Linked DNA regions of Homo sapiens. The protein of the gene in region 1 interacts with the protein of each later gene in a biochemical or structural test. Each region holds a gene or a part of one and is shown in the gene's direction. Other genes may lie near its edges.

Region 1 (8,228 bases):
ACAGCCACCAAGCCAGCCTCATATTCTTAAATGTCAAAACATGATTTTTTACTACTGTGCATTATTTTGTCATATGGATATATCATAAACAACCAATTCCTTACTATTGGAGATAGAGATTTTTTATTTTTTTCACCATTATAAATGAAGCAATAAATACCTTTATAAATGAATTCCACATTTGATTTTATCTTTAGAATAAATTATCAGAAATGGCTTAAGGGAGCTAAACTTTTTTTTTTTTTGAGAGACCGAGTCTCGTTCTGTTGCCCAGGCTGGAGTGCAATGGTGCCATCTCAGCTCACTGCAACCTCCGCCTCCCGGGTTCAAGGGATTCTCCCACCTCAGCCTCCCAAGTAGCTGGGATTACAGGCGCATGCCACCAGGCACGGCTAACTTTTGTATTTTCAGTAGAGAGGGGCTTCCACCATGTTGGTCAGGCTGGTCTCGAACTCCTGATGTGATCTGCCCGCCTTGGCCTCCCCAAGTGCTGGGATTACCGGTGTGAGCCACCGCTCCTGGCCCCTCTTATTATTTTTTTTTAAGATGGAGTCTTGATCGGTCGCCCAGGCTGGAGTGCAGTGGCACGATCTCGGCTCACTGCAACCTCTGCCTCCCGGGTTCAAGCGATTCTCCTACCTCAGCCTCCCTAGTAGCTGAGATTACAGGCGCCCACCACAAGGCCCAGCTAATTTTTTAATTTCTTGGCCAGGCTGAGCTCGAACTCATGACTTCAAGTGATCCGCCCACCCCAGCCTCCCAAAGTGCTGGAATTACAGGCATGAGCCACGACGCCCGGCCGAGAACTAAACATTTTTTAAGGTTTTTAGCTTCTTACTATTTTACATCACTTAAAGTGCAACTTACCCTCCTGTTTGAGGTGACACCCTTAAATTCACAACCAATCCTCCGCAAAATGGGATAATGAAAAACAAAGCCAGCTGTATGTTAATAATATTAAGAACTTCAAAAAAAGAATGGAGGCAGTTATCCAGGTGATTTTTGTTTGTTTGTTTGTTTTGAGATGGAGTTTCGCTCGTGTTGCCCAGGCTGGAATGCAATTGCACGATCTCGGTTCACCACAACCTCCGCCTCCCGGGTTCAAGTGATTCTCCTGCCTCAGCCTCCCGTGTAGCTTGGATTACAGGCATGCGCCACCACGCCAGGCTAATTTTGTATTTTTAGTAGAGACGGGGTTTCTCCACATGGTCTCAAATTCCCGACCTCAGGTGATCTGCCTGCCTCAGCCTCCCAAAGTGCTGGGATTACAGGCGTGAGCCACCGGGCCCACCTCCAGATGATTTTTTTTTAAGTTATGGGAAAGTTTTCTGATTTAAAAAAAAAAAAAATTGCATCAGGCCAGACGCAGTGGCTCATGCCTGTAATCCCAGCAATTTGGGAGGCTGAGGCGGGTGGATTGCCTGAGGTCAGGAGTTTGAGACCAGCCTGGTCAACATGGTGAAACTCTTGTCTCTACTATATTACAAAAAAATTAGCTGGGCGTGGCAGCAGGCGCCTGTAATCCCAGCTACTTGGGAGGCTGAGGCAGAAGAATTGCTTGAACCTGGGAGGCAGAGGTTACAGTGGGCTGAGATTGTGCTACTGCACTCCAGGCTCGGCAACAGAGGGAGACTCCATTTCCAAAAAAAAAAAAAAAAAAATTTGCATCCACCAGGCACAGTGGCTCATGCCTGTAATCCCAGAACTTTGGGAGGCTGAGGCGGGTGGATCACCTGAGGTCAGGAGTTCAAGACCAGCCTGGTCAACATGGTGAAACCCAGTCTCTACTAAAATACAAACAAATTAGATGAGTGTATTAGCAGGCGCCTGTAGTCCCAGCTACTCTGGAGGCTGGGGCAAGGAGAATTGCTTGAACCTGGGAGGCGGAGGTTGCAGTGAGCCGAGACTACGTCACTGCACTCCAGCCTAGTCTCTGTTGGACATTCTGACCACAGTCAGAATATTAAGACTTCTAAAAACTCTCATTTCCCTGTGAAATTTTCTGAATTAAAATTACTTTTATCTACCAATGACCTGGAACACCCCGAGCCCCCCAACCCCCACTTTTATTAATAGTTGTCCCGCCTTTCTGGAAGGGACCAATCTACATCTTACACATATTGATTTTAGAGACAGGGTCTCACTCTGTCACCCAGGCTGGAATGCAGTGACAGGATTATGGCTCACTGCAGCCTCAACCTCCCAGGCTCAAGTGATCCTCCCACCTCAGTCTCCCTAGTAGCTAGAACTACAGGTGGGCACCATGGCTAAATTTTGTATTTTTTTGTAGAGAGGGGGTTTTACTGTTTTGCCCAGGCTAGTCTTGAACTCCTAAGCTCAAGGGATCCGCCTGTCTCAGCCTCCCAAAGTGTTGGGATTACAGGCGTGAGCCACAGTGCTCAGCCTTTGTGTTTTTTGTGTCACATTGATCAAATATTTTAAAAATTATCTTTTATGTTGAAACAAGTATTAAGGAGATGATGGAAAGAGTCAATTCCTTGAGAAGGGTGAGAGCCAGAGTACAAGTGGTGGAATTTCCTTCTGACAGGACACATCTTTCACTGAAAAGAAAAATGCAAGAGAAAATGAATGCAAATTGGAAAGTCTGACGTTGAAGCATTCCTCATAGGTGGTTTTTATTTTTTGAAGTTGAGGCAAGGTCACCAGCTAAAAATGAGAGGTAGGGAAAAAGGATGTGAAATTTGAGGAGATGTGAACGTATGAATGGTTAACCCAGAGACTGGAATAGCATTGCCAGCCAGTGTTGAGTGCTCCTGAGAGGACTGAGGTCATGAATTAAAACCAGTTAGCTTGTTATATGACTGACTTTTCTCCAGCAGCTTTTGCTGTTTGGATGTAAGCAATGAGAAAGTTCAGCTGGAGCATGGTTTAGTCCAAGCAAGGCTGAGATTCTTTCAAGCAAAAAAGGAGACATTGAGATCAGAGAGTTGAAAATGTTTGTAAAAGAGTGATGAAAAGGACTGATCAGGGAATTTAAGTCAGGTGAGTTGCAAAATTATTACATGATGGCAGAAGCAGAAGAGTTGAGTTTTTTTAAGTGTTGGGGTTAATAGCGTGGAGGTCTTAATTAGGTAAGTGAGAGTACCATAAATTAGCTGGGAAAAAAAGGCTAGTGATTGACAATTGGGAAGCTTGAAACTGAGATTTCAACTGATGACAAGGTTCAGAATCTGACTGATACCGAAGTGGTTAAGACGCAAGAGAGGAACAAATTGTTGGAGATGAAGAGGTCAGAGGTCTAAGAGGCCAAGTGTTGGTGTTGCATGGGTCACCTACAAGCATGCTGAATTCAGATAGAATGTAGACAAGAGGGATGGTGAGGAAAACCTACGGCAAGCAGCTCTATAATTTCTGGAAAGTGACCAGGAGGCTCGTGGATGATGGCAGGAAGGAGAGTAGAAAGTGATTTAGCCAGAAGATATGAACTTCAAATATTTTTGAAGCAGAAAAGAGCAGAAATGGTTTGGAAGTAGCAATCAGGACCAAAGAGACCACCCAAACTCAATAGCCCAACCTCTTAGCCTTAGGGTACGCAGAATCTGAAAAGTGTAATCTCAATTTTGGAGCTCTACAGCAGTAAATCTGCAAGTAACCACCTGTAGCTAATGTCCAGGGATTAAAAAAAAGATAATGAAAATGTTTTTGCCCAGGAAACATTAATTTCAGGCGTATCTAGAATGCAGTTCTTGCATTATACGTACTGGGTTACCAGTCATTGCAAAGTCATGGTCCTTTGCCTCTCAGCTCAGTTCCCCTTCTGAAGATAAAAACATTTGCCTATGTGTCCAGGGAAGCTGTGAGGACAAAAAACCAAGCAACTTTTACAAGGGATCATAAAAACCTACCTAACAACTTGCTAATTAAAACCTGATTTTTAATTTGCATTATTGAGCTTAATACCATTGCTTAAATGTATGTGAATACTGAGATTTTTATAAAGGAATTAGTTACCTCTAGGAAAATAATTATCACTAAAAGAAATAATATCGCAATTTGAATAAAAGTAAGTCGCTTAAATCATAGGAAACATTTTTAGTGAAGGCGTTTGTTTTAAATGTATTCTAACCTAGCAATGTAGAAAGCAGGCAAACATTTAAAAAAAATTTAACCAGTTTCTAAAACATAGTTTGGAGCTCAGATTCTGGGGAAATGATTAACACACCCTACATCCAAGGTCTCCTTTCCTTTCTAGAAAGAAAGCATCTTTAAACATACATATTCATCAGAAATACAAATATTTGTCATCAGTGATACTAATTTCCAGGCAAACATTTTAATTGCAGTCAATGTATTAGATTCTACCAGGTTTTAATTTGGATCGGTAATACGGGTTTGATTAGGGTTCTAGGCCTAATTATAGGTCACTAGTCTTCCTTTAGGATTATGCACCATCTGTTATTTTAAATTGACCATTGAGGGGGTTCCCAAGGGTTCTCCTTCGTTTTGTTATCAAACGTTAGGTTTAGGATTCTTGCGGGTGGTGGGATCCAAAGCCAGAGACGGTTTCAACAAAAATGCAAGCGCGAATTTGTCTTGCGTCTGAACGCACTGTTCAAATTAAACAATTTAGACATGCCCCAACTATGACACTAAGAAGTGAATGGTATAGTACACTTTTGTCACAAATTCAAGGGTAATTTAAGTGCCCGATTGTAGAGGTCTGGCTTCCCCTGGGTTTCTGGAACAAAAGAAGCGTTCGCGAGGAGAGGGGTAACTCCCCGCCCTCCCCCTCCCAAAGTAAATCAAATCAAGGAATATGAGTGCCTGCAGACAAGCCTCGCTTCTTTTCTTCCCCTTCAGGGCTAGCGTTTGGGGAAGGCAAGGCTGCGGCTACTCTTGGAGCTTCAGTGTCCCGGGAGGAAGAAAGGCCCAGCCAAGGGTCCTCACACTGGCGTGGAATTCGGCGCGTTCGTAGGCGATCGACCCCAGAGACGAAAGCTGCTTCTCAAGCTGGGGGAGGGAGAGGAAACGGCGCACAAAAGCAGTACGACCTGTCCCTTATCGGCGTCTAAGGGGAAGGGTGGAGAAAACGAAAACAGAAGCGGGCCGGGAGCCTCGGCTCCCGCCCCAGCGCCTTTTAAACTGCGTTTCTACCTCCTCTCGCTCAGCGCGGCGGCTAATGGAACCCGCGCGAGCCGTCTCGCCAATCACCGCCGCGCTTCCTCCCGTCGCCCGCCAATGGCGGCGCGCGTTCTTGGGGCGTGGGCGAAGCAGGCTGCTCGCCTCCTGCCTGTAGTGTGTGGGCTGGGGTTGGTGCGAGCTTCCAGCTTGGCCGCAGTTGGTTCGTAGTTCGGCTCTGGGGTCTTTTGTGTCCGGGTCTGGCTTGGCTTTGTGTCCGCGAGTTTTTGTTCCGCTCCGCAGCGCTCTTCCCGGGCAGGAGCCGTGAGGCTCGGAGGCGGCAGCGCGGTCCCCGGCCAGGAGCAAGCGCGCCGGCGTGAGCGGCGGCGGCAAAGGCTGTGGGGAGGGGGCTTCGCAGATCCCCGAGATGCCGGAGTTCCTGGAAGACCCCTCGGTCCTGACAAAAGACAAGTTGAAGAGTGAGTTGGTCGCCAACAATGTGACGCTGCCGGCCGGGGAGCAGCGCAAAGACGTGTACGTCCAGCTCTACCTGCAGCACCTCACGGCTCGCAACCGGCCGCCGCTCCCCGCCGGCACCAACAGCAAGGGGCCCCCGGACTTCTCCAGTGACGAAGAGCGCGAGCCCACCCCGGTCCTCGGCTCTGGGGCCGCCGCCGCGGGCCGGAGCCGAGCAGCCGTCGGCAGGGTAAGGACGCGGGGCCGGGGCTACAAAGGCGGGCGTTTGGCGGTTGCCGCGCGCGCTCGCCGCCGTTTGCAGCCCCTCCCTCCCGGGCGCCCCCTCGGGCCTCCCAGGTGCGGGGCTGTCCCTGCGCCCCCTCGCGTCGCCCCTTCCCCGCGGGGCTGCAGGCGCCGGAGCGGAGAGGCCAGAAGTTGGGGCCGCGGGGTTCGCGTTCTTTGACGTGTGGGTCTGGGAGGTGTGGAGTTGCGTTGGCGGCGGTTGTTTTGCACGCAGTCGACGCCGCTTCCCTGGACCACCAGCCGCCTGCAGCGGGCGTTTAGACGGGGACTTCCGTGCCCTTTCGAAAGCTCTGGAGGGGTGGCCCCAAAATGCTATAGGTTAAGTTCGAGCGTTTTCCCGCTTTATTAACTGAAATGACTCGCAGCAGAGTCTCAGAGCGCTCCCTGGAGGGCAACTGATGACACTCTAATTTCTAACCAAAATTTGAAATGAGGAAATTCCCGCCTTTTTATACTTTTGCGTGTGGAGGGCTTTTTGAACCGTTTATGTTTTCTAGTTTGTTTTAATTTTTCCCAGCAACAGGCCATCTTTTGGCGGAACAGGTTCATGCCGAATTAAAAGGAGCATTTTAAACTATATTTTTAGGCGCCTATTATAATTTTTTAGTTTTTATTTATTTATTTTTTTAGATGGAGTGTCGCACTTGTTGCCCAGGCTGGAGTGCAATGGCGAGATCTCGGCTCACCGCAACCTCCACCTCCCGGGTTCAAGCGATTCTCCTGCCTCAGCCTCCCGAGTAGCTGGGATTACAGGCATGCGCCGCCACGCCCGGCTGATTTGTGTATTTTTTAGTAGAGACGGGGTTTCTCCAAGTTGGTCAGGCTGGTCTCGAACTCCTGACCTCAGGTGGTCCTCCCGCCTCGGCCTCACAAAGTGCTGGGATAACAGGCGTGAGCCACCGGGCCCGGCCCTGCAAACAAATATTTGAAAATTGCAGTTTGGATTGCGTTTTCCCCACATATTGGTAAATTTTGCTTGAGGAAACGAAAGACTTAGGATTCAGGAAAAATTTATTTCATGACATTCTGGTGCATCAGTATTGCAATTTGGAATGTCTGATCCTGGTTAAATCTCAAATCGGCTCCAGCAAAGCATGTTTTGTTTCAGAATAGTTTGCTTTTTTACCTGTGGATTTTAATATGCTTTTTGTGGGTTTGCTTATGCCTGCCGAGTTACCAGGCTTCAAATCGTAATAGGATGAAGCTAAAACTAGTAATTGGTGTAACATAAAATGCCTTGTAAGAGACAGTGAATGTGGTGTTTGGAGTTGTTGGGAATGATCACTAGTTTAAACCGAAATTATTCCTTCCTTCAAATTTTACTTTAGTTTTTAAGGAACCTGTCTAATGTGTTTTCCCGGCTACTCAGGCAGAAATGAAAGACAAATGTAATAGACACATGTAAATTTAATTGAAAATCTTATTCTCGGCTTCAGAGAAGTTGAAAGTTTTACCAAACGTCTTCAGTCCGGTGTCTGGCACATAGTAGTGCCAAATATTTGTACAATAAATAAAAGACCAATCACACCTTATTGTTTAAACATCTTGTTTTGCGGAAAGCTTCTTTAATTTCTTAATAAACAAATTTACTTTTGAAATAAAAGCGTACCCGCTTACCCGTTATGTTTCCCTGCTCTGAAAAAGAAGGTAGTATTTAAACTCTTTAAGTAGAGTTGGTTGAGGCCGGGCGCGGTGGCTCACGCCTGTAAGCCCCGCACTTTGGGAGGCCCAGGCGGGTGGATCACCTGAGGTCAGGAGTTCTAGACCAGCCTGGCCCATATGGTGAAACCCCGTTTCTACTAAAGAAAAAAAATACAAAAATTAGCCGTGCCTGGTGGCGGCGGCCGAGGCAGGAGAATCGCTTGAACCCGGGAGGCGGAGGTTGCAGTGAGCCGAGATCGCGCCATCGCACTCCAGCCTGGGGGACAAGAGCGAGACTTCGTCTCAAAAAAAAAAAAAAAAAAAAGTTGTTTGAAAATAATATTTAAATCAGCACACTTTATAAAAAACCTAATTTTCTATAGAACCCTTCATTGGTCCTCTGTGCAAAAGTATTAAACCGTGAAGTTTTTGGTTGTATGTTTATAATAGAATTACTGGTTATTATTTTTAGGCGGGATCTCGCTTTGTTGCCCAGGCCGGAGTGCAGGGATGTGATCATAGCTTACTGCAGCCTCAAACTCTTTGGCTCACGAGAGCCTCCTGCCTCAGCTTCCCTGAGTAGCAAGGGCAACGGGGCATGCACCGCTACACCCGGCTAATTTTCTAATCTTTTTTTTTTTTTTTTTTTTTTTTGGTACACAGGCTTTCTGTGTTGTCCAGGCTGGTCTAGAACTCTTGGCCTCAAGCAATCCTGCCTCAGCCTTGGTTCCTATTTATTTTGAGGATGA
Region 2 (7,458 bases), on another chromosome or scaffold:
CGCTTGATATCCAGGAGGCAGAGGCTGCAGTGAGCCAGATGGTCCACTGCACTCCAGCCTGGGTGACAGAGTGAGACTCCGTCTAAAAAAAAAAATTAACACAGATCAAATATCTGTTGCGTACCAGTCACCGTTCTATGTTAGAGGATATGAAGATTTTTTTAAAAAAATGAATTACTGTTCTTTGTTGCTGAGAGTGTAGTGGGGGAGCTATATCCCAGCAAGTAAAGAAAGATTGTCTTTTGTCTGATGTGAAGCATTTTGATGCTGGCGCTTTTGTAATCTTTCCAGGAGTTAGCCACAGGAGGTTTTTCACACAGTAACAAGGCTGCCACCTGGCTGACAGTAGTTGTAAATGTATCGATTCTAAAATGCATGCTGGTTTCAGCGGGGTTAAAAAATGAGAATAATGTGTATTAGAATCAATGAAATAATGCATGTGATACAATTTAGGTAATAGCAGATGCTAAGGGAATAAAAATAAAGCGGAGTGAAGGGTTAGTGTGATTAAGGAAGGCCTGTCTGAGGAGTTGACAGTACCTATTCTCTGAGGGTTAGTAGTGTTCTGGGATTATATTTTTCTTAAGTCTGTGCTACTGTATGTATATTCCTATTGCCAGGATTAGATGACTCTTCTTTTCCCCCCAACATACCATCATTTGCTCAAAACATGCCACATTTTAGTTTGCTCCTTATTTGAATTAGGACTTTTTTTATATGGATTTATTCCTCAATAGCTTTTCATTTTTCTTGTTAAGAAAAATTTGCCCTCAGTGTGTTTGCAGACTTTTTGAAGATATTTAATCATAATATCTATCACATGAATCTGCTTTCTTCCCTAGAGTTCTCTTTGCTTAAGGTAGGCTGTGTACTGATGTCCTGTAACTTATTAAAGACAGCTTCCTGGCCAGGCACGGTGGCTCACACCTGTAAAGCACTTTGAGAGGCCTAGGCAGGTGGATCACCTGAAGTCAGGAGTTCAAGACTAGCCTGTCCAACATGGCGAGACCCCGTCTCTACTAAAAATACACAAATTAGCCGCGTGTGGTAGTGGACGCCTGCAATCCCAGTTACTGTGGAGGCTGAGGCAGGAGGCATTGCTTGAACCGGGGAGGCGGAGGTTGCAGTGAGCTGAGATCACACCACCGCACTCCATCCTGGGTGTATTTTCCTTTTCCTTGGTTTCTTCATATTTTGTTGAAGAACATCCTTAAGTAATTTATTCAGAAAGGATGGCAGGAGGTAAACTTTCTGAGTCCTGTATGTCTGAAAATAGCTTTGGGCTAGGTATAGAATACTAGGTTAACATTTTTCCAGAACTTGGAAAGTATTATTTTGCCCTATTGTCTTCTGGCATCTAGGGTTGTTAATGTCTTTCTTTTTTTTTTGAGACGGAGCTTGGCTCACTGCAACCTCCGCCTCCCAGGTTCAAGCGATGCTCTTGACCCAGCCTCCCAAGTAGCTGGGATTACAGGTGTGCACCACCACACCCGGCTAATTTTGTATTTTTAGTAGAGACGGGGTTTCACCGTGTTGGCCAGGCTGGTCTCCAACTCCTGACCTCAGGTGATCCACCCACCTCGGCCTCCCAAGGTGCTGGGATTATAGGCGTGAGCCACCATGCCTGGCCTATATTTAATTTTTTATTTGGAACTAGAGTGTTTGTAATTAAGTATAATCATCATTTAGGTAGATTTAGATTAAGAAAACAGCTTTGAGAGAATTATAGATTCCAGGTTACTTAGTTTCTTTTTGGTTCCTCAGCAAACAAGATACCTTAGAGGCAGAGCATGGAAATGCTTGGTCTAAAGAGAATTTGGCAACAGTTTCCATGCAGGTGGTGTCTGAATCCATAGAAAACAGACCTCATATGTAAGGTACAGTTACTTTGATTCAGTCCAAGACTGATTATATTTTGCTGAAAGCTTTTTTGAGAGAACAGTTTCCAAAAATGATGATGAATGCCATCACTCAACACTTTAAACAAAAAGTACAGAGAAATTGACTTGTTTCAGATTTTCACTGTTAACTATACGGGAAAACTAGATATAACAGAAAGTTAAGTGTTTACATCAGTCTTCAATAACTGATTTTGTGGATTCAGACATTTATTTTCCTTCAGTGATACAGGTCCCGTATCTTTTCTGTAAAACCCTGGGGGCCAGATGTGCTTTGGAAGTTAAAGCAATTCCAATTTAAGACGGTAATATGATGCACATACTGGATATGACACCCCCAGTGGGGTTTATAGATAGAGTTAGGGTAGATAGAGTTAGCACTCTATCATGAAACATTTCTGAGGGAAAGATATTGTCATGGCAAGTGGAGAAAGACAGATTGAAAATAGACCTGGTTTCAGGTCAGGTTTTGCCACTAAATGTGTTAATAAAAATTTTAGGTTTTCAAACTCTGGAAGTATAGATAAAAGATGGTGAATTTTTGTTTTTATTTATTTATTTTTTGACACAGAGTCTCGCTCTTTTGCCCAGGCTGGAGTGCAGTGACACAATCTCAGCTCACTGCAACCTCTGCCTCCTGGGTTCAAGCAATTCTTCTGCCTCAGCCTCCCAAGTAGCTGGGATTACAGGCACCCGCCACCACGCCCAGGTAATTTTTATATTTTTAGTAGAGACCAGGTTTCACCATGTTGGCCAGGATGGTCTTGATCTCTTGACCTCGTGATCTGCCCGCCTCTGCCTCCCAAAGTGCTGGGATTACAGGCGTGAGCCACTGTGCCTGGTCAAAAACATGCTAATCTTCTTTAGGAGTGTTTTCTTTGTACATAGGATGATTAATTGAAAAACAAAAACCTTTGGCTGGGCGTGGTGGCTCACGCCTGTAATCCTAGCACTTTGGGAGGCTGAGGTGGGAGGGTCATGAGGTCAGGAGTTCGAGACCAGCCTGACCAACACTGTGAAACCCCATCTCCATAAAAATACAAAAATCAGCCGGGCGTGGTGGTGCACGCCTGTAATCCCAGCTACTTTGGGAGGCTGAGGCAGGAGAATCTCTTGAACCCAGCAGGTGGAGGTTGTAGTGAGCCAAGATCGTACCACTGCACTCCAGCTTGGGCGACAGAGCGAGACTCTGTCTCAAAAACAAAAACAAACAAACAAAAAAACCACAAAAAACAAACCTTCATCATCCTGTGTATTACTATATCTTTTTTTAATGTACTGATTTTGCCCTATTTGAAGCAGATTGACAGTATACATCTTGGCCTTAATATAAGAGTTATCAAACTTTTATATTTTTATAACTTAAAATATAAGAGTTATAAAACTAGTTTTCTTTATAAGAGTTATAAAACTAGTTAAACTGCTTTTCATAGTTCTTTTATAACAGAGTTATGTTAAATGTTACTTTAATTTTCAAGGGAAGACTTGGAAGGACCAAACCCCTAAAAATGATTTAAAAGTCTAGGAAGCAGGTCCCAAGTAATTAAACTGTCATGACATTTCCTTCCCATGCTTTCAAAAGATGTTTGATAAAGCAAGATCTTTTGGAGTTGTTTATTTAACTTAGGGGATGAGACTAGGTAATATTTTGCATACCCAGATTCAAGGAAGTAAACAGGCAGAATGAAAGATAAAGCACTATTAAAATATGGTGGGTCTTTTCTTTTTTGTGTCTTTACACAGTTGCTGGTTATATTTATTCTTTCGTTTGTATAGATGGTGTCACCTCTGATATGTCTGAGTTAGAAATCTTCAGACTTTTTTTTTATGCCATTAGTGTAAGTCTCTTTCATGTACAAATGTTGAGAATGAGCCTCAGGTATCAGTTGAGTAATGGGACCCTGTATAGGTCCCATTATTTTTAGGATCAGGGAAGTTTTTAAAATCAGTTTTAAACCCTTTTTACAGTGTACCTCTTTGATAAGGAGATTGTGCTTTGGCTGTCATTTGATTTTTTTTTTTTTTTTTTTTTTTTTTTGAGACAGAGTTTTGCTCTCGTTGCCCAGGCTGGAGTACAGTGGTGCGATCTCAGCTCACTGCAACCTCCGCCTCCCGGGTTCAAGCAATTCTCCTGCCTCAGCCTCCCAAGTAGCTGGGATTACAGGCATGCGCCACTACACCCGGCTGATTTTGTATTTTTTTTTTAATAGACTTGGGGTTTTTCCATGTTGGTCAGGCTGGTCTGGAATTCCCAACCTTGGATGATCCGCCCGCCTTGGCCTCCCAAAGTGCGGGGATTACAGGCGTGAGCCACCGCACCTGGCCGGCTGTCATTTGAATTTTTATTATTTTATTTTATTTTATTTTTTTGAGGCAGGGTCTCGCTGTGTCGCCCAGGCTGGAGTGCAGTGGTGCGATCTCGGCTCACTGCAACCTCCGCCCCTCCAGGTTTAAGCAATTCTCTGCCTCAGCCTCCGGAGTAGCTGGGATTACAGGCACGTGCCACCACGCCCGGCTAATTTTTTGTATTTTTAGTAGAGATGGGGTTTCACCATCTTGCCCAGGCTGGTCTTGAGCTCCTGACCTCGTGATCCACCCGCCTCGGCCTCCCAAAGTGCTGGGATTACAGGCGTGAGCCACCGTGCCTGGCTTGAATTTTTTTTTTTTTTTGAGACGGAGTTTTGCTCTGTCGCCCAGGCTGGAGTGCAGTGGCGCCATCTCGGCTCACTGCAAGCTCCACCTCCCGGGTTCACGCCATTCTCCTGCCTCACTCAGCCTCCTGAGTAACTGGAACTACAGGCGCCCTCCACCACGCCGGGCTAATTTTTTTTTATATTTTTAGTAGAGGCTGGGTTTCACCGTGTTAGCCGGGATGGGCTCGATCTCCTGACCTCGTGATCCGCCCGCCTCAGCCTCCCAAAGTGCTGGGATTACAGGCGTAAGCCACTGCCCTCCGCCCGAATTTTTAAAAATTAATTTTATTATTATTATTTTTGAGACGGAGTCTTGCTGTGTCACCAGGCTGGAGTGCAGTGGCACAACCTTGGCTCACTGCAATCTCTGCCTCCCGGGTTCAAGTGATTCTGCCGCCTCAGCCTCCCAAATATCTGGGATTACAGGCACCCGCCACCATGCCCGGCTAATTTTTTTTTTTTTTAATTTCTAGTAGAAACGGGGTTTCACCATGTCGGCCAGGATCATCTCGATCTCCTGACCTCGTGATCCGCCCGCCTTGGCCTCCCAAAGTGCTGGGATTACAGGTGTGAGCCACGGTGCCCTGCCTAAAAATTAATTTTTTTTTTTTTTAATAACTGAGTCTTGCTCTGTCGCCAGGCTGGAGTGCAGTGGCACGATCTCAGCTCACTACAGCCTCTGCCTCCCGTGTTCAAGCAATTCTCCTGCCTCAGCCTCCTGATTAGCTGGGACTACAGGCACACGCCACCACGTCGGCTAATTTTTTTTTTCTTTTTCTTTTTCTTTTTTTTTTTTTGTATTTTAGTAGAGACGAGGTTTCACCAGGTTGCCCAGGCTTGTCTTGAACTCCTGAGCTCAGGCAATATCTGCCTGCCTCAGCCTCCCAAAGTGCTAGGATTACAGGTGTGAGCCACGGTGCCAGGCCAAAAATTAAATTTTTTAAACAGCAAATGTATATTCATTATAGAAAAGGAGAAAACACAAACACCAAGAAGAAAATTCTTGGTTGGGCCTTAGGTTGGGCCCAACCCTTAGGTTGGGACCAGCGGCTCATGCCTGCAATCCCAGCACTTTTGGAGGCCGAGGTGGGCGGATCACCTGAGGTCAGCAGTTCGAGACCAGCCTGGCCAACATGGCAAAACCCTGTATCTACTAAAAATACAAAAATTAGCCGGGCATGGTGGTGGGCACCTGTAATTCTAGCTACTTAGGAGGCTGAGGCAGGAGAACTGCTTGAACCTGGGAGGCAGAGGTTGCAGTGAGCCGAGATCGTGCCACTGCACTCCAGCCTGAGTGACAAAGCAAGACTCCCTTTGGGGGGTGGGGGAAAAGATGCAGGAAAAAAAAAAGCTGACATTTATTTTGTGCCAATTCTGTTTGCCAGGCATTACAGTAGATGCTTTACAGACATTATCTTTTTTTTTTTTTTTTTTTTGATGCAGAGTCTGGCTCTGTCGCCCAGGCTGGAGTCCTGGAGTGCAGTGGCACGATCTCGGTTCACTGCAGGCTCCATCTCTTGAGTTCACGCCATTCTCCTGCCTCAGCCTCCCAAGTAGCTGGGACTACAGGTGCCCGCCACTACGCCCGGCTAATTTTTTGTATTTTTTAGTAGAGACGGGGTTTCACTGTTAGCCAGGATGGTCTCGATCTCCTGACCTCGTGATCCTCCTGCCTTGGCCTCCCAGAGTGCTGGGATTACAGGCGTGAGCCACCGTTCCCGGCCAGACATTATCTTTTAAGCTCATGATAACTGCTGATGAGTAAGGAAACTTCAGGCTCAGAGAGTTTAAGTATTTTGCCTGGTATTACTTAGCAAGTAATGAAAGCTAGAAAGGATGGTAGCCTGACTTCTAGCATTGTGATAGGGTGTTCACATACATAACCTTATTTCATCCATACAACAGTGTTCTACAGGTATTACTCTGGTTTACCGACATGTAGCAGGCTCACAGAGCATCATTATCTGTGGTTGGTACTTGAAGTCTCAGATAGGATAGTTGATTTTCAGATCCCTTTGGGTGCTACTTTTGGAAATGCTACTAGTTGCATGTTTTTCACGTTGATAGTTTGTAGCCTTCAAGGGAGGTAATTTTGGATTTGTCAGAAGGGTAGTGGTCAGTAGTTGAAACAGCTGTTTGAAATACTGAGGGCTTCATTTGCTAAAGAAAGGTGAAGATGAATTACTGAAAGAGATCGCTTTTATCTTTTTTCTCTTCTTAAAAAGCTACTTTCCAACTTTATTCCATGCCTTAATAATTTAAAAGAAATTAAAACCTCTAAATAAATCTTTAATACTCATGACAGGGTGTTCTTTCATTCTTTATTCAAGACACATTTTTGTGGAACAGGTACTATATGCCAGGTCTTGAACCAGATGCTGGGAATAGAGAAATGGGATACTCAGTCCCCATTATCAAGTTACTTACAGTCTAGTGGGGAAGACAGAAAACCAACACTACAGGATTGTGATACTGTAAGTGCAGTATACTAATAAAATATATTAAGTGCTGTGATGCCAGTATCCAGGTGTTGCTGTGGAGAAACAAGGACCGCTACCTAAGGCAGGCTAGGAGCCGTGTGAAATTTTGAAAGACATCCCAGGGGAATCTGAGCTAAGTGCAGGGAGGTAAGTAGGGATTTGCTTCTAAATGGAAAATGGAGAGTGAGTTGTCCTGAATGTCAAATAATTTATATAACTGGAGCCATATATATGTGTATGTGTGTGTATATATACATCTTATATGTATATGTTATATATAACATATACTTTATGTATATGTTACTTATATATGAAGTATATGTTATATATAACGTGTGTGTGTGGGGGTATATATATATATATATATATATTTTTTTTTTTTTTTTT

The links.
Region 2: the proteins of TMPO (region 1) and LMNB1 form a complex in vitro, tested with the Homo sapiens proteins (2 studies listed by BioGRID).

The regions. Positions count from the first base shown.
Region 1 is NC_000012.12:98,510,362-98,518,589, forward strand, and holds the start of TMPO (thymopoietin), read left to right. Parts: upstream 1-5,228; 5' UTR 5,229-5,506; coding exon 5,507-5,785; exon of another isoform or gene 5,786-5,865; intron 5,866-6,059; exon of another isoform or gene 6,060-6,156; intron 6,157-8,228. UniProt on the Homo sapiens protein: May help direct the assembly of the nuclear lamina and thereby help maintain the structural organization of the nuclear envelope. Possible receptor for attachment of lamin filaments to the inner nuclear membrane.
Region 2 is NC_000005.10:126,780,106-126,787,563, forward strand, and holds part of LMNB1 (lamin-B1), read left to right. Parts: intron 1-7,202; exon of another isoform or gene 7,203-7,218; intron 7,219-7,458. UniProt on the Homo sapiens protein: Lamins are intermediate filament proteins that assemble into a filamentous meshwork, and which constitute the major components of the nuclear lamina, a fibrous layer on the nucleoplasmic side of the inner nuclear membrane.